Homo sapiens: one gene and its partners. The protein of the gene in region 1 binds, or shares a complex with, the protein of each later gene. Each region holds a gene or a part of one and is shown on either strand. Other genes may lie near its edges.

Region 1 (7,303 bases):
TAGAATTCTGACTCTGCTCATTAATTCATTCATTCAAAATTGTTTATCAAGCACCTACTGTGGGAGCCAGGCACTGTTCTAGACATTTGAGAGACATCAGTGAAGAAATGAATGAAAGATTCCTGCCCTCAAGGAGCCTCTCTTCTAGCAGAGGGAGATGAACAATAACCATAAGTAAATTATAAGGCATGCTGGGAGGTGACAAAAGTTATGATGAAAAGAAAGAAAAAGAAAAACTAGAGCAGAGGAAGTTGATCAGGAGTAGCAGGAGGGGCAGAAGTTGCATTTTAAACATGGTGGTCAGGGCAGGCTCCATTGAAAAGGTGCCATTTAAGAAAAGACTGGGCCAGACGTGGTGACTCATGCCTGTATTCTCAGCACTTCGGAAGGCCGAGGCAAGCAAATTACCTGAGGTCAGGAGTTTGAGACCAGCCTGGCCAATGTGGTGAGACCCCTGTCTTTACTAAAAAAATACAACAATTAGCTGAGCATGGTGGCACACACCTGTAATCCAAGCTATTCAGGAGGCTGAGGCAGGAGAATCACTTGAACCCAGGAGGTGGAGGTTGCAGTGAGCCAAGATTGTGCCACTGCACTCCAGCCTGGGTAACAGAGTGAGACTCCATCTTAAAAAAAAAAAAAAAAAAAGCTGGTAGATGGTGAGGGAAGGAACCATGTAGACATCAGGGAAAAGTGCAGGCAGAGGCAGCAGCCAGTGGAAAGACCCTGAGGCAGGACCACGCCTGGCTTGTGTGAGCAGCAGCAGGGAGGTGGGTGATGACCCAGAGAGGGGGACACTTTTCCAGTGAACAAGACAGACAAGGTCTCTGCCCTGGGGAGCTCATGATTACAAAGCAAGGTGTTTAGAGAACAAAGATGGTATGGGAAGTACAGAGACAAGGGAAGTCCAAAAAACTGTGGGGGCCCAGAGAGGACTCTTGACCCTCAGGAGGAGGTAACCCCAAGCTGAGCAGTGGGGGATATGGAATAGTGACACGTGAATAAAGGCATGGGAGAAAATTAATCCAGAACGATGGGGGAGTATGTGCAAAGGCCCTGAGAATCCCACCACTGGTCACCACCCCCACTGCTATCTCTTGGTGCAGTGGCCACCCTCTCCTGCCTAGATGATTATAGCAGCCTCCTCTTGGGTCTCTCACAGAGGGGCAAAGAAGCTAGAGTATACAGTCACTAACGACTCTCTTTTCTTGGTAGGAGTTCACACTCGTGGATATTAATTCACTGCATTCCCCTCTCAACCTGCATCCATGAGCAGAGAGAAGCAGGAAGCCACAGGCATACACAGCAGTGTCTGCAGGTGACCTCTGGGGAGGCCCTAGTGGATTTTGGGTGGGGCACTGCCAGCACCTTCCACAGCCCTGTGTGCTCAATGTCTCCTTCTCCTCTCTGTCCTACCCTCTCCCCCTCACTAATTCTATTCAAATACACTGGCTGTTCCCTCTGCCTGGAATGCTCTTCCCCTAGATATCCACAAGGCTCACCCCCTCATCTCCTCCACACTTCTGTTCAAATGCCATCTCCTCAAAGACACCCTCTCTGACCAGCTTATCTCAAATAGCCCCTCCATTATTCCACCTCCACCTTGTCCTGTGCTATCTTTTCTTTTCTTATCTTTTCTTTTCTCCTTCCTTCCTTCCCTCCTTTCTTCCTTCCTTCCTTCCTTCCTTCCTTTCTTTCTTTCTTTCCTTCTTTCTTTCTTTTTCTTTCTTTCTCTCTTTCTTTTCTTTTCTTTTTTAGAGAAAGGGTCTCACTCTGTCACCCAGGCTGGGTTACAGTGGCACGATTGTAGCTCACTGCAGCCTTGAACTCCTGTGCTCAAGTGATCCTCCCACCTCAGCCTCCTGAGTAGCTGAGACAACAGCCGCACACCACTACATCTGGCTAACTTTTTAATTTTTATTTTTTTGGTAGAGATGGGGGTCTTGCTATGTTTCCCAGGCTGGTCTCGAACTCCTGGGTTCAAGTGATTCTCCACTTTGGCCTCCCAAAGTATTGGGATTACAGGTGTGAGCCCCCACATCAAGCCGCTATTTTTTTGGTAGCACTTTTTACCACCTGACATATGATATATTTACTTGTTTTATGTTGATTGTTTCTCTCACCAGACTGGGAGATTCCTGAGAGCAGGGACCATGTCCAGTTTTGCTCATGGCAGAATCCCTATCACAGGGCCTGGGAAGTCAATACATAATTGTGAAATAAATGGCTCTGAAATTGAAATGCTCTCCGAGAGTCTTTCTGGGTCTGACCATTTCAAAGTCTTGGAAATGACTATGATTCCCCTCCCCAACATTTCCAGTGGCCAGGGGTGGCCTCTAAAGGCCAGTTACCGCCAAGAAGCTGCTAATGTGGGAGCCTCCCTCAGCCTCTCCCCATCCAGGCCCATGTGGTAGGGGTCAAGGGTCAACCTGGTCCAGCCCTCTGTGGGTCCCAAGGTGGAGGAGACGCAGTGCTGGGGTCCAGGCCGAGGGATGCCTGGTGAGCCCCATTTCTGCTTTGGCAAACATCCCCCTTTCCTTCTCAGGGCCTGTGCCTGCATTTCTGAACCAGAAGGTGTTTATACAAAACATCCTGGGTTTGGCGACAAATTCACCCTCAGTGAGGAATCCTTAATGAATCTCCCTCCTTCCCCACACCAGGTGGCTGAAGGAAAAATTAGCTCTGCCTCTGGTAGTTGAAGGCAGCCAATGGCTAGGCAACATAGAGGTGCTGCTGGGGCTTCTGGGGCCACAATTTTTGGGGAGGGTTTTTTCAGGGTCCGGAAATGGCATGGACACCAGGCACTCCTGGCTTGCTGTGTGATGAGGCACTGCCTTTCTCCTGGCCTCAGTCTGCAGCTGTGAAATGGGGCAGTAATAATCCCATCCATACAAAGGTTGCTTTGACACTCAAGTAAGGCAAGGGGTGTGAAGGGGCTTGGTTACAAGAGGTCAAAAGGAGAGAATAAAACGCTGGAATCAGGGAGGCGAGACATCAGAGTGATAATATCGGTTCTGCTCTTTAGACTTTCAAAGTCCTTTCCCAGCGCCTTTTACAGCCATGTGGGCTCAATGCCTCCTTCCCTCTGACCTCCTGCCTGCTTCCCCCCCGCCCATTCTGTTCCACATACGCTGGCTGTTCCCTCTGCCTGGAACACTCTTCTCCTAGGCATCCACATGGCTCACCCCTCACCTTCTTTTCAAAGCCTTGCCTCTCTCTGAGGTTTGTTTTTTCCAGCTATCCAATGAGGAGTTTGGGCGTGAAGACCTCGTGGGAACCCTCTGGTTCTGATGGTAACCATTTTCCACCTGCCTGCCTTCTCTGGGAAGTCCTCCCAATCCTACCACCCACACCCACCTGCTTTTCTGAGCTAGCACTTCATTGCTTACTGCCCATAGTTTTCAAGTCCCTTCCTTATGTATAGGCCAGCTACTCTGGACATTGGGCCCAACACAGGGGCTCAAGTGAACTCTGGTTAAACGGAATTAAAAGTGATTACTGCTTCCTTTGTTTTTTGAGACAGAGTCTCGTTTTGTCACCCGGGCTGGAGTGCAGTGGTGCCATCATAGCTCAGGGCAGCCTCGACTCCCCAGATGCAGGTGCTCCTCCCGCCTCAGCCTCCTGAGTAGCTGGGACCAACGGGCGCGCCCCCCCTCACCCAGCTAATTTTTTTTTTTTGTATTTTTAGTAGAAACGGAGGTTTTACTGTGTTGCCCAAGCTGGTCTCGAACTCCTGGGCTCAAGTGATCCCCCCGCTTTGGCCTTCCAAAGTACTGGGATTACAGGCATGAGCCACTGCGCCCAGCTGATTCCTGCTTCCTTCCGATCCTGTGGAGAGACACTGAGGCGGATTTTTATTCACCCCCTTTTTATAAATTAGAAACTGAAAGTGTCAGAGATTAAACATAAGTCACACTGCCACATGGGCCTTCTTGGTGTTTCTTAGCCAGGGGAAGAATAATATTTCCCAGATCCTAATCACTACCTGCCACGGTATATAATTGTTTTGCCATTAATTGTCGGTGTTTCCCACTAGGATGAAGTTCCATGAGGGCAGGGATTTTGTTGTGTTCACTGCTGCATCCTAAGCACATAAAACTGCTTGGCACATAATAAGTGCTCAAGAAGCATGAACCGAGGGAGTAACGGGTCAGAGGCAGCCCGAGGACTGAGCTCTCTGAGCCTGCAGAGGGCGCTCCAGCCCCGCCCCCAAAGCTAGGCCCCGCCTCTCGCAGCCGGCTGGCGCACTAGTGTTAGAGCCTGCGCACCACCGTTCTTTTAACTGCGCAGGCGCGCCGGAAGCACCTAGAGAGCGGCGCGTGCGCAGCGGGAGTCGAAGCGGAGATCCCGGGGTCGCGCGAGAGCCGCAAGCGGAGTTGGTGGGCGCTATGCTATCACCCGAGGCAGAGCGAGTGCTGCGGTACCTTGTAGAAGTGGAGGAGCTCGCCGAGGAGGTGCTGGCGGACAAGCGGCAGGTGAGAGGCCCCTCCGCGGCGCTGGGGCCTGGCGGCCGGCGCCGTGGGAAAGCGCGCGGGGTCGCAGTGAGTTGACCTGGACAGGCGGTTAACGGCTCCGAGGCGACAGACCTGGGCCGATAAATATTCGGCCGCTACTAAGTGAGCGCCTGCGCTATGCTGGACATTCCTCTCTCTTCATCCTTTCTCTGCCCCTTGCCATGCTCTGTGGATCTCGACCCATCATGCTCTGGGCCGTTTCCCTGAGCACCTGTTTCAAAATGCACTTCCCGGCCCCATGGTTGATCTAGGGGCACCGCCCTGTAAAGGCCCTCAGGGGAGAGCTGGAACCGAAAAGAAGCCTGAGGGGGCCTTGTGACCGGGCAGGGGTGGGGACGTGGGGGAAGGTGGCGCCCTGTTTATGGGGTGTCTTGTTTTAAGTGCCAAGTTTTTGAGGGGAGTTCCTGGGGGAAGGAGGGTGACGTAATTGGATTTAGGTTTTAAAAGGATCCCCCCTGGCTGCTGTGTGGAATACAGAATATAGGTGGGCAAGGGCGGAGGCAGGGAGATGGGTGAGGGGCCATTGGTATGGTCCAGACCAGAGATGGATTTGGACTAGGTAGTGGTGGTGGAGAGAAGTGAAGGGGTCAGAAATGTATTTTGGAGACAGACTCAGTAGGCCGTGGTAGTGGAGCCGGGGGAGTCGTGACTCCCTCTCATCTCCAGTTAGAAGGGTCAGGTATTTACTGAGAAGGGGAAAACTTGGGCAAGATCCTGTCAAATTAAGTACTGGATCAGGGTGTGCTGGATGAGAATAAGAGCAGTTAAAGTTTATCAGCTACTTACTATGTGCCAGGTACTGTGTTAAGTCATTTAATTGCTGGCTCAATAACCTGTAAGGTAGGTACTGTCCGTAGCTCCATTTTGAGGAGGAGTAAATAGGAAGGTGAAATTACACAGCTTGAGGCAGATAGCAGGATTCGAACCTGGGTATTCCAAATCCAGAACCAGCACTCGTGCAGTATACTGTACTACTGCGTCACTTCCTTAGTAGCTATTGTGTTGTTACCACTGTCTCAGTGCCCCCAATCCTGCTGTTCCAATCTAGTATTGTTGGGTTTCTCATATTACTAGTTCAGAATCAGCTGGAGAAGTTTGTCCAAAAATAAACATTAGGCCTGCTTAATCACAGTGTGTAGGGGAAGGGTTTCCACTCCCCTGGTGATTCTGATATGCCCTAAAGTTCGAGTGGATAATGCAGAATTTCCCATTTAGTCAGCACATGTTTTCTCAGCATCTTTTCTGGGGAGAGGGCAGCTGCACAAAGCATTGTCTTTAAGACCAGGAAGCTGAGTGAGAGAAGAAATACATTCACACATCAATCCATTTTAGGCAGGACGTTGAATGTAATCAGGAATAATGCATTGCCTCTGCAACCCTTGTCTGTCAAGAGGTGACAGCTTGGGGCAAGAGATAGCTGAGTTCCCTCCTGTCCCTGTGGTTTTCAGATTGTGGACCTGGACACTAAAAGGAATCAGAATCGAGAGGGCCTGAGGGCCCTGCAGAAGGATCTCAGCCTCTCTGGTAAGTTGAAATTTTCTCAGTGCAGCCCTGGAGGCCTGTTCCGTTTTCCTTTAAGGCCTTTACCTTGTTCCTGATAGAGATCAGGCAGGAGGTCACAGCTGTATAACTCAGCCTTGTGGGAAATTGAAACAGTCCGGGGAGATGGGGGAGCAAATTTTGCAGTTCTGGCACAGACTGTGGTTCAGGATTTTGCCTGCTCACTTCAGTGACAGGTCGTTAGCTCCTGGCTTATCAACGATGGCAGACACTGAGAGAGTGCCGGGGGTGTATAAAACTGATGGTTCCTGCCCTTGTGCTTTACAGATGAGGAAAACAACGTAAAATGCGTAATTGAAAATTGTAAGAAAGCCAGAGATGGAATTGGACTTGGGGTGGGTGTTGAGAATATATATCCAGAAGAATGGGACACTTTAGATGAGGCCAAGTGGCTGTGGCAGTGGAAGCAAATGGGGAGTAAGTATGGCTGGAGAGAGGGACAGAGACCAGGCCATAATGAAAGGTCTTGGGGGCTAAGGGAGGAAGTTTACATTTTGTTGAAAGTACACTAGAATGTGCAGAATCTTCCAGTTGCTTCTCATCTCACCTGAGTAAAATCCAGAGGTCCTACAAGACCGAGTAATCCAGCCCCCATGAATCCATGAGTGTGCCAATATCATCTCTACTCCCCCCACCCCCAACATGACTCCACCTACACTGGTCTCCTTGCTGTTCTTTTATTTATTCATTTATTTATTTATTTGGAGACAGAGCCTTGCTCTGTCACCCAGACTGGAGTGCAGTGGCATGATCTTGGCTCACTGCAACCTCTGTCTCCCAGGTTCAAGTGATTCTTGTGCCTCAGCCTCCTGAGTAGCTGAGATTACAGGCGTGTGCCACCACACCCAGCTAATTTTTGTATTTTTAATAGATACAGCGTTTCGCCATGTTGGCCAGGCCGGTCTCGAGGTCCTGGCCTCAAGTGATCCACCTGCCTCGGCCTCCCAAAGTGCTGGGATTACAGGCGTGAGCCACTGCGCCCGGCCCCTTGCTGTTCTGAACACCCCAAGCACACTACTGATCTTTGCTGTTCCTGTTGTTTCCTCTGTTTGGCTCACTCTTTCCCCAGATGTCTGCAGGGCTCACACTCTCACTTTCCTTAGGTCTCTGTGTAGATAGCATATAATCAGTAAGGCCTTCTCAGACTACCTGCTATGATTAACAAGGTCCTCCTCTGGCATTCCCTAGCCATCTTAGCCTGCTTTATTTTTCTCTACAACTCTTAAGGT
Region 2 (4,256 bases), on another chromosome or scaffold:
AAAAAAAAAATTTGGAAACAACAACAAAAAAAAAGCTTAATTTTCTCAACGTAATATTCCAAATAAGTGACTCTCCATGATCACCTGAAATCACATAAATTTTGCATATTATGAATGTTTTAGTTGGCTCCGTTTTCTTGAATGGCATAGCATCAGTGATATTGATGACATCTTAGATTTAATAAAATACAGGTATTTATTGTTGTTGACTCTATTACCAAATACAAGTGTTCTAAGAGAGACTTCTAAAAATTTTCTAAACTAAAAAAAAAAAAACCTTAATTTTCTTAACTTAATATTCCAAATAAGTGACTCTCCATGATCCCCTGAAATCACATATACTTTACATATTGTGAATGTTTTAGGTGGCTGCGTTCTCTTCAATGGAGGTGGGGGAGGGTAGGCTTAATGAAAATGTGGTAAAGTCAATAATTCCAAAAGGCTTAGCTAAAGATATGTTGAACATTAAAGAAACAAAGTGAATTAAAACTACTAATTAAGCATTTATAAAGCAAAATGATGTGACAATGTTAACTTTATTACTACTGTTAAGGTAACAGAATCAAAGCTTCTGTAGATCTCAAAAACAGAAGTTTATTCATAAAATGCATTTTTAAAGTATGACCAAAAATAAGACTACAAAACCCCTACAATCTTGTACATTTCACCATCACTTACCACAGTCAAAAACCAAAAGTCTCACCAATTCAGTTCCTGTATTTTAAGTAAAAAAGAGCTCTTTAAAATCAAAGCATTTTGTTTTATGAATTAAATTGCAGAAAATAGCTACCCAAATCTAGACCAACCGTGCCGTTTTGAGAGAGAGAGATATATATATATATATTTGTTTTTTTTTTTTTTGAGACGGAGTCTCACTCTGTCGCCAGGGCTGGAGTGCAGTGGCGCAATCTCAGCTCACTGCAATCTCCACCTCCTGGGTTCAAGTGATTCTCCTGCCTCAGCCTCCCAAGTAGCTGTGATTACAGGCGCCCGCCACTAAGCCCAGCTAATTTTTTGTATTTTTAGTAGAGACGGGTTTTGACCATGTTGGCCAGGCTGGTCTCGAATTCCTGACCTCGTGATTCACCCGCCTCAGCCTCCCAAAGTGCTGGAATTACAGGCGTGAGCTACCACGCCTGGCCCACCATTTTGATATTTTATACAATAATATTATGTCCAGAAAATTACTCACACTGAAATCTCTCAAAATGTATTTATGAAGGTTAATTCAGTTTTTCCAAGGCAAACTCTTTTAAACCAAATGAAATGATTCCCACCACAACATTATAGACACTAAAACATAACACAAGCATAAAGATAAAATATGGAACTTCAGGGACACAGAACAAATCTGAAATATGTTTAATTATAGACAACTATTGACTTAGAAATGGAAGGGAGAGAAAAGAACTGGCCCTGGAGATAGTTTACTTGGTGCTTCTGATACCCACGTGCAGCAGCAAGTCAGCAAACAAGCCCCGAGAGAGGCTGGAGGCTGGCCCAGAGGCTTGTGGCTGGGGTCTTTTATCATCAGCCAAATCCAGCTTTGTTCAATGAGGGTCAGAGGACTCCAGAACCTATCTTAAATTGTGTGAGTGTTCCTCTGGAAGGTTTCAAGTCCAAAGTCTTTTTTTTTTTTTTTTTTTTTGAGACAGTCTTGCTCAGTTGCCCAGGCTGGAGTGCAGTGGCACAATCTCGGCTCACTGCAACCTCCGCCTCCCGGGTTCACGCCATTCTCCTGCCTCAGCCTCCCAAGTAGCTAGGACTACAGATGCCCGCCATGACACCCAGCAAATTTTTTTTTATATTTTTAGTAGAGACGGGGTTTCACCATGTTAGCCAGGATGGTCTCGATCTCCTGACCTTCTGATCCACCCGCCTCGGCCTCCCAAAGTGCTGGGATTACAGGAGTGAGCCACCGTGCCCAGCCTCAAGTCCAAAGTCTTGAAGTCAAATTTTATTGAGCTTTGTAACGATCAGTACTCTCACCGTTTGGTCAAATGAACTACAGACGCAGAGACCCCTTTTATCTGGACTCCAATCCAAACTTGAAATGGGCTGGGTGGACAACGTAACATTCTGCAGAAGGCTTACAGAACCTGCGACTCCCATTTCTATTCCCTCAGAATCTTTCTTTGACCGCTGAATAGGGTATTCACTGAAAACAAGATCAAAATGGTAAGAGCGCATAAATCTTAGCTTTCACCATTTTATTTTTATACATACACTTCAATGACTCTATTTCTCAGTTGGTTACTGGGACTAATAAATACTTAAAGAATCTTTCTAATACTGAGTTGTTTGCAAATAAAGAGACAATTTCAACCTCAATCCTATCCCAAAACACGTCATAAAAAAGGGTTATTAGTTCTACTAAAAACTTCTAAAAGTCATTTCTGCTCAACGTGTATCTGTATTTTCTCTTTTAATATGAAAGTTCTAGGTTGATCTAGGATTCTTTAATACATTTACTTGGTGCTTTTGGCAATCTTTTATTTATTGTAATTTTTCTCCAGATATAGATTGCTGGATATCACAGGCAAACAATGTGCAAAGGCAATGGCTGTAAGTAACATTTGCAGAACTTCATCTAAACACTTCCAGAATGAAAAACTGATGCCAGCTTCTAACCCTCGAGCTCCATTACACGGACCCAAGCCTAAGGACCTTTTGTGTACCATTTCTATGGGAAGGCGTCACAGGGTGGAGATGTTAGACCTAAATGTAATTGTTTCAAACAAGAAAAAAGTGGTTCTGAGAACATTTTTTTTTTCAGCTGAAAATATAAATTTATACAGTAAGAAAAGCAGAAGGTTAAAGTCATAAATCCTATTTGGTCTAGATTTGAAAAGGGGAAAGAGAACACTCCTCCCCAATAGAGATGTGTTCCTAATAAAATACAAAAGTATCACTCCTCAGAAGGCCTTTTAAAACCTACTAGTATCAATTATGACAACATCTTTATTTCATACATGCTGGCAAAGGCCAAGAACGTAAGAAGCACAAAGCCAATCAGAAGCAGAATGGAAAGGGAAGAAGAATCTACAGGTGGATGATCTACTATTTTCTCTTCCTCTCAAACCCTACAAATCATTTTGATGAAAAAAAATAAAACATTCAGATGAATAAATGGTTTAAATACAGACACCTTTCACATATCTCTTGGCAAAGGCTGCAGTTATTTAGTATTCAAAAGATAACATAAAAAATTTTTAAAACCCTCCATATTATCTGTTGAAGTTTTAAAAGAATATGTGTATATGATTCAAATACTTGGAAAAAAAATCAGCATGTTGAAGTTTTTCATTCAAAAAACAAGTCGTGAATAACTAGATGATTTCTTGTAGAAGCTGTTCGTTCAGTGGTCAATAAATATTTACAATTTAATTGCATTACTACCAAGACAGACTGGCAAATGAAAATAAAGCTAAATATCATTGTACTTAAACCAATTCCCTTTGCTGGTACAATACTTGACAGTAAAACTCCAAACCGATTTGAAGATTAGACTGGACATCTGTTCTGGTTAGGTGTAAAGTTTACATTGCGCTAAACTTCAAATTTGCATACAGACCTAACTTTACTGACGGAACTAAATCCGCTGTAGTAAAAAATTCCAGCTGCGAAAGTGTTCGTGTGCCTCATGGAATACAAATCCATGTGTAGATTACAAAGAAAACTGGGACTAGTTCTTCAAGCGAGCAGCCTAAAGAGTTTGGTCACCAAGTAAAATAGTGATGTGCCACCACATGGCTTCACTAAGGGGACTGGCAGAGTCTAACGTGGGGAGGAGACCGGGATGGAAGAATCAGGGAAGAACAACAGGCAGAGGTGCTAGAAGAAGGGAAAGTAGCAAGTGATCTCTCTACCCCACATTCTCCCAGAACGACTCAAACTTTTCCTCTGCTTTTCACTCAGAAACCATATTGGTTGTTTGTTTGTTTGTTTGTTTGTTGAGACAGAAAAAGTCTCTGTCGCTCTGTCTCACTCTGTCACCCAGGTTGGAGTGCAGTGGTGCGATCTCGACTCACTGAGACCTCCACCTCCCAGATTCAGGCAATTCTCGTGCCTCAGCCTCCTAAGTAGCTGGGACGTGTGCCACCACGCCCGGCTAGTTCTTGTATTTTTAGTAGAGACCCGGTTTTGCCATAATCATACTGCTTCGATCTAAAGTGTTCACTCTGGCTGGGTGCAGTGGCTCACACCCATAATTCCAATACTGTGGGAGGCCGAGGCAGGTGAATCACCTGAGGTCA
Region 3 (7,489 bases), on another chromosome or scaffold:
GATTATGCCCTAAGCCTAAGGCACCCACTGTGTGTAAGGAACTCATTTCTCTCTCTGCATCTACAGCCAACTAGGTAGGTACCCTCTCAGGGAAAACTGAGAACAGTCATTCAAATCATTTTCTGCAGAGTTTAACTCTGTCTCACAAAACCCATGTAGGGAAAGGCCAAGAGCTTAAAAGCATGTTTGATTCATCTTTCATAAAGGAATACTAAGTGCCACATATGAAGCTACTATGACATTTTCCCCTTCTACACTCAGGATGTCACTACGCTTCTACTTTACTAGAACTCACTGTACTCCCACAACTGGGCCAGCTTTAAAGCCTAAATAAATTGCTTCACAAAAAATTTTCACTGCCGATTTACTGGGTAGTTTTCCTGTACTACACTATAATTACAGTGCAGCTATCTAATCAGTTTATTTTGTGGCCTTGTGGGTCTCCTGTCCACTGAAGCAAATGCTTCTATTAAATAAAGATAGATTAAATACTGACGCGCTTTTTCCTGAACTGGGGATAATTTTACACACCCATGACAGATATACGTGGTTATTTTGTGTGCCGAATTAACATTAACACAACACAGAAAAATAATTTGGTAGCACAGTCAATGTCTACAGAAAACAGTCATTCAGTTTGCCACAAGACTGTAACTGAAAAAGCAGTTACTCTCTCTTCCAATGTAACTCAACACGATACCAGAAAGCTGTTCAGAGCACCCCAAAAAGTATCCTTTGCATTTCAGTCACACTAACATCAGAATAAAACTAAGGATATCTTTTTAATATGCCAAATGGCAGAAAACATATCAAGTCAGCATTATGCACGTATTATACACTGAAGGAGGTGAAATTAACCCACTGCAGCAGAGGAAAGGCAATAGAAACACCATCCTCTGAGGGTCTGTGTCACATTCTCTGAAAGAATAAAAAATGCCAAGTTTTGGCAAAAGGAGTAAGATTTCATGAGGGGCTGTTTTTTCTTTCTTCTTTTTCTATCTTTCTCTTTTAAAAAAATACATTAATGTCTTCTAATTTAAAGACGCCAAACTAGTTAAGTTTTATATATATATATATATATATATATATATATATATATATATATATATATATATGAATGACAGGGTCTCACTCTGTCGCCCAGGGTGAAGTGCAGTTGCATGACCATGGCCCACTGCAGCCTCAAACGCCTGAGCTCAAGTGATCCTCTCACCTCAGCCTCCCAAGTACGTGGGACTACAAGCGTGCACCACCATGGCCCGGCTAATTTTTTGTATTTTTTTGTATAGACGGAGGTCTCCCTGTGTTGCCCAGGCTGATCTCGAACTCCTTGGCTTCAAGCAATTCCACGACCTTGACATCCCAAGCAGCTGGGATTACAGGTTTGAGTCACCACCCTAGCCACTGGATTTTTAAACCTTCATCTTGAAAACATGGCTTCCAAACCTAACAGTTGCGTTATTAGAGAAAAATGGCTGAGAAATGAAAATCCAACCCACAAAATAATTTAAACCAACCAGAACAAAGAAAGATTCCCGCAGTTCATCCCAACAGGTGGTTTCCAAGCAAACGAGGGTTTTTTAAGTTCTATCAAAACCCCCATCTAGTAGAACTGAGTATATTTTTGTATCTATGTAAACAGTCGTTCTTATACAGGAATGTTCAATTAAAAAGTTAAGAACTTTTAAACTGCTTATAGTGTTGAAGCAACTTCCTAACCCTTTATAATCCATGCTCTTCCAAACATGACATAAAATATTTTAAGCAAATTAAATACTGCTTTTCAAAGTAACAATTTCAAGACACTTGAGGGGACAGAATCAATCTGAAAGACCACAGAATCCACAGAAAAATCAGATTTAACAATAAAACTATTTCTTAAATTGGGAATACTTCTTTATATAAAGTCCCACTAGGAAACACAAAACTTTGTACCCTTTTCACCAGTAGTTTAAAACTCATTTATTATACGATGAAATTAAAATTTGTAAAAATGAGCCGGGTGCGGTGACTCAGGCCTATAATCCCAACACTTTGGGAGGCGAGGTGGGGAAGGGTAGGAGGGGGAGGATCGCTTGAGGCCAGAAGTTCGAGATTAGCCTGGGCAACATAGTGAGACTCTCTTTTTTTTTTAATGTTTAAATGGCATTATATTGTGACAAATATTAAATAACCAAATATTGCACAGGAAGCATTATCATGACAAACGCGGTAAAACTTTTCCGTGCAATCAAAGAGCAACAAACAGTACACATTTTAAGCAATGTTTAGGTCATTACAAGCTACAAATATTAAGGCGAACGCTTCCGTTGACAGCGTGCTGCCCCCGCCCCCAAATTCCCACGCGCTGCCGCACGCCTTCAGCTCAGAAGCCCCCTTTCCTGGGCAGGCGAACGGGCTGCACACCCCTCACTCCGCTGCGAAGTCAAAGGGCTGCAGACAAAGACAACAGAAGCACGTGACAAAAGTTTATCCCCGTTCCCTCCGGGGGCCCGGGCAGCTGGGCCTAGGCCACGCGGGGCGGCGGCCCAGAGCACAGGCAGGGGCAGCCCGGCGGGCGGAGGCGGAAGCGGCGCGGGGCTGCTAGTTACCTTTTCCTGCTCCTCGCGCAGCCGCGCCACATCCGGGGCGCGCAACGGAACCAGGGCAGGGGCCGGGGCCGAAGGGGGCGAGGGGTCGGGGGGCGTCTCCACGGTGGGCGCCTCCATGACGGGCCCGCGGGCCTCAGCGCGGCGTGTGAGTCCTGAACCAGCGCCTGCGCAGGCGGCGCGGCCGGCAGTTGCCCAGCGCCCGCGCGCCCGCCCTCAGGCACCGCGCGCCCCGCGCCCAGGAGGCCGCGCCCGCCGCCGCCGCTGCTGTTCGCGTCCGCGCCGCCCGCTGCCGCATCTCACACGTGCATGTCCCCGCCGCCGCCGCCCCGCAGCGGGCTCCGAGTAGCAGGCCGCCTGCCAGGTACCGAGACGCCTCTCCGGTGCGGGCCCAGCCAGGCGTCGCGTGGCGGCCGCGCCTCCCCACACGCCCCGCCTCTCGCGGCACGCCGGAAGCAAGCGCGCAGGCCCCGCCCCCGACACGCCCAGCTCGCGCAGGCCCCGCCCCCAGGGGAGTGCGCTTGATGCGAACCGCGTGGCTGGGGCTGGCGGTGTCCGCGCTGGGCTGCGTTTGTATCCCTCTGGAAGCTTACATTTTATGCCGATATTTCTTTCTTTTTTTTTTTTTGAGATTACGTATATGAAAGCACTAAATATAGGCTTTGGAACCTTAAAAAAAAAAAGCTTACATTCTATAGAAGCTCCACGCCCAGGAAACGCTCGGCAACAAGAGCCGCGTGTCGCCTTGAGTGCCCCATCTCCCTCCCCGTCGTTTGGCGCTGCATCTGTATCTAGGAGCTTAATTCATGTACTAGAGCTGTTTCATAAGCACATTTAATTTTAGCAAATTCAACTCTTTCTGTGCCTTTTTAGTGAGTTGAAATATACAATTATATTTTGCATGTTCATTAATTACTGTACACATTGTATTTTCTCTTATATAAATTAAGCTACTGTACTAATTTTAATATGCTGCTATGAATGGACTAAGAAATTTTCCAAGGATAACTTTGCCCCCACTTTTCTTTTTTTTTTTTTTTTTTTTAAGAGACTGAGTCTTGGTCTGTCGCCCGGGCTGGAGTGCAGTAGTGCCATCATTTCTCACTGCAGCCTCAAACTCCTAGACTCAAGCGATCTTCCCACCTCAGCCTCAGGAGTAGCTGGGACCACTGGCCCGCACCAACACATCCTGTTAATTTTTCTATTTTTTGTAGAGGCGGGGTCTCCCTATGTTGCCCAGGCTGGTCTTGACATTAAGCGAGCCTCCTGTCTTAGCTAACCTCCTGTCTTGGATTCCCTGAAGTGCTAGGATTACAGGTGTGAGCTACCACACCTGGCCGTTCCAATTATTTTAGAACTCCTGTGCCCACTTCCTCCTACAGCCCTTTGTACAGCCTCCTATTAACCTAACTGCGTGAAAGTGGCCTTGCCTTATCTGCTGCAGTCGCTAGCAGTAAAGATGGGTCGTGTTCGTTCCACATCATACAGACAAGTCTAGGCAGAGAGATGCCTGCAGAGTCACAGCCTGGTGTGCCTGCTTGCTCTGCTTCTCTTCCCTCACTCCTGCCCAGCTCCCAAGTCCAGATCCACCCTTTTTTTCCTTTTTATGGCTTCAAAGGAAGAAAGCAAGGACAACTTGGGAAAAGATAAATGTTCATTCCTGTCTTTTCCTCACTGCATATCCAACCATCATCACCTCTGGAACAGCCAGGACCTGACCATTGTTACCATCTCTTCTACCACCACCATCCTCTCTCCATCCCCAGCCACCTCAGCAACCATTGATCTGGCCTTGCTGCCCCTACTCTTGTCCCTTGTAATGGAGATCGGCTGCTGCCCACCCCACTTCCCCTCGTTTAGGGGCTTAACCCGCGACCACATAGTCCTGTGCCTGTAGGAAGCTGACCCACCCCCTAGCTCCAGGCAAAGGGGGTGATGCATCTCCCTTCTAAATAGTTGGTTCAAGAATGGGTGTGCGATGTCGTCCAAACAGAGACTTCCTGGAGGCTTCTGGGAAGGTTCTTTTTTTTTTCCTCTGTTGCCCAGGCTGGAGTGCAATGGTGCCATCTTGGCTCACTGCACCCTCTGCCTCTTGGGTTCAAGCGATTCTCCTGCCTCAGCCTCCTGAGTAGCTGGGACTACAGGCGCGTGCCACCACACCTGGCTAATTTTTGTATTTTTAGTAGAAACAGGGTTTCACCATGTTGGCCAGGCTGGTCTCAAACTCCTGGCCTCAAGTGATCCACCCGCCTTGGCCTCCTAAAGTGCTGGGATTACAGGCAAGAGCCACCACGCCTCTCCTGAGAAGGTTCTTCCTCATTCTTCAAAAGTGCTCCCATAAGGAATCAGTCTATCCCCTTGGCCAGGAAGTGCAAAGCAGGTAGCCCCATGTGTATCAGACAGCCCCCCAGACCACCTAGACACTCCAGTACTCAGAATGAAGTGCGATCTGTGGTCAGCAGAGCTGAGAACAGAACCCAATCCTTGACAGCATCACAGAACTTGATCCAGGGCTGAATCAACCAGCTCTGGAGTCTGCATCACTTCTGAACTTCCCGTTTAAAAGGCCAGTAAATTTTCTAAATGACCAGGACAATTTTCTATCATGAGCAGCCAAAGACATCCAATTCGCACACCTCTAAACTATTATCCACTCAGCAGTCTGGGTGAGCTTTTCAAAGGGGATCAGGTCATGTCAGTCTCCCTTCTAGGGCCCTCCATGGCTTCCCACAGCAACCAGAATCAAATCCAGACATCCTACTAGAATTCAGCATTGTCGGACCCACCTTCCCCACCTCCAACCAAGCCCCCTACCACTCAAGCCAACCACAACAATTTCTCTCTTCTTCAGATACTCCAGACTAGTTCCTGCCTCAGGGCCTTTGCACCTGCTGATCTCTCTGCCTGCAATATTTCTCCCATATCTTTCCATGGTTGCCTCCTTGCCATTACTCAGGCCTCAGTTCAAATAATAACAGGGCTTTCTTGATCTCCTGTCCACAAAAGCCCCTCCCCTCTCCTCTAGGCATCTGCCCTCACCTCACTTTTTAAATTTTCTTTGTAGCACTTATCACACTTTCAAATGATCAGCTTTGGCCGGGCGCAGTGGCTCATGCCTGTAATCCCAGCACTTTGGGAGGTGGAGGCAGGCGGATCATTTGAGGTCAGGAGTTTGAGACCAGCCTGGCCAACATGATGAAACCCCATCTCTACTAAAAATACAAAAATTAGCCGCCGTGGTGGCACACACCTGTAATCCCAGCTACTCGGGAGGCTGAGGTAGGAGAATCGCTTGAACCTGGGAGGCAGAGGTTGCAGTGAGCAGAGATCATGCCACTGCACTCCTGCCTGGGCAACAGAATGACACTTCGTCTAAAAAAAAAAAAAAATTGGCAAGGCGCAGTGGCTCACGCCTGTAATCCCAGCACTTTGGGAGGCCAAGGCAGGCAAATCACCTCAGGTCGGGAGTTCAAGACCAGCCTGACCAACATGGATAAACCCCACCTCTACTAAAAATACAAAATTAGCCAGGTGTGGTGGTGCATGCCTGTAATCCCAGCTACTGGGGAGGCTGAGGCAGGAGAATCACTTGAACCCTGGAAGTGGAGGTTGCAGTGAGCCGAGATCATGCCATTGCACCCCAGCCTGGGCAACAAGAGTGAAACTCCTCTCAGAAAAAAAAAAAAATGGTAGGCCAGGCACAGTGGCTCATGTCTGTAATCCCAGCACTTTGGGAGGCTGAGGTGGGCAGATCCTGAGGTCAGGAGATCGAGATCATCCTGGCTAACATGGTGAAACCCCATCTCTACTAAAAACACAAAAAATTAGCCAGGTGTGGTGGCAGTCACCTGTAGTCCCAGCTACTCAGGAGGCTGAGGCAGGAGAATGGCATGAACCCGGGAGGCAGAGCTTGCAGTGAGCCGAGATGGTGCCACTGCACTCCAGCCTGGGTGACAGAGTGAGACTCTGTCTCAAAAAAAAAAAGTAAATATTATTTTATTACCTTATTACTTTATTACTTATTATTGGTTAATCCCTTCTTCATGTGCCAGGCCCCCCACTGGGAATGGGAGACAAGAGTTGACCAAGGCAAGCACCAGCCCTGTTCATAGATGTTGGAGTCAATAGAGGGCCACTAACATGGTTTGGATATTGTTCCCTCAAAATCTCATGTTGAAACGTGATCCCTAATGTTGGAAGTGGGGCCTAGTGGGAGGTGTTTGGGTCTTGGGGGCGGATCCCTCATGAATGGTTTGCTGCTCTTCTGCAGTAATGAGTTCACATGAAAGCTGGTTGTTTAAAAGAGCCTGGCACCTCCTCCTTCCTCTCTTGCTCCCTAGCTCTTACTTCCACTTGCCATGTGACGTGCAGCTCCCCATTTGCCTTCCACCATGATTGGAAGCTTCCTGAGGCCTCACCAGAAACCGAGCAGGTGTTGGTGCCACATGCTTGTATGGCCCACAGAACTGCGAGCCAAATAAACCTCCTTTCTTTACAAATTACCCAGCCTTGGCTGGGCACAATAATTCACATCTGTAATCCCAAAACTTTGGGAGCCCAAAGCAGATGGATCTCCTGAGGTCAGGATTTCGAGACCAGCCTGGCCAATATGGTGAAACCCCATCTCTACTAAAGATACAAAAAATTAGACAGGCAAACCTCATGAGACATGAATAAACAGCCAGGGGAGTTCTTGATGAAAAAAGAGGCTGCTGGTTGTTGGTAAGAGAACAGCAACAGGGTGGATGCAAAACAGCTGCCATGCCCCATTTCTCAGCCCTCACCCTACCATGAGGCTGCAGGAATAGCTTTCCTGGAATGGCTGGCTGGTTGCAAGGTGGGCAAGATGACCCTTGTCCTCCAAAAATTGGGGCATTTTTGAGTCCTGAGGGATTAGCACA

Evidence for each region.
Region 2: PDRG1 (region 1) and DNAAF10 share a complex: the UniProt entries of both Homo sapiens proteins name them as parts of the PAQosome complex.
Region 3: PDRG1 (region 1) and URI1 share a complex: the UniProt entries of both Homo sapiens proteins name them as parts of the PAQosome complex.

What each region holds. Positions count from the first base shown.
Region 1 is NC_000020.11:31,949,047-31,956,349, reverse strand, and holds the start of PDRG1 (p53 and DNA damage-regulated protein 1), read left to right. Parts: upstream 1-4,303; 5' UTR 4,304-4,388; coding exon 4,389-4,475; intron 4,476-5,962; coding exon 5,963-6,038; intron 6,039-7,303. UniProt on the Homo sapiens protein: May play a role in chaperone-mediated protein folding.
Region 2 is NC_000002.12:68,129,288-68,133,543, forward strand, and holds the end of DNAAF10 (dynein axonemal assembly factor 10), read right to left. Parts: intron 2,159-4,256; coding exon 1,951-2,158; 3' UTR 518-1,950; downstream 1-517. UniProt on the Homo sapiens protein: Key assembly factor specifically required for the stability of axonemal dynein heavy chains in cytoplasm.
Region 3 is NC_000019.10:29,937,767-29,945,255, reverse strand, and holds the start of URI1 (unconventional prefoldin RPB5 interactor 1), read right to left. Parts: upstream 3,018-7,489; 5' UTR 2,709-3,017; coding exon 2,592-2,708; intron 1-2,591. UniProt on the Homo sapiens protein: Involved in gene transcription regulation. Acts as a transcriptional repressor in concert with the corepressor UXT to regulate androgen receptor (AR) transcription.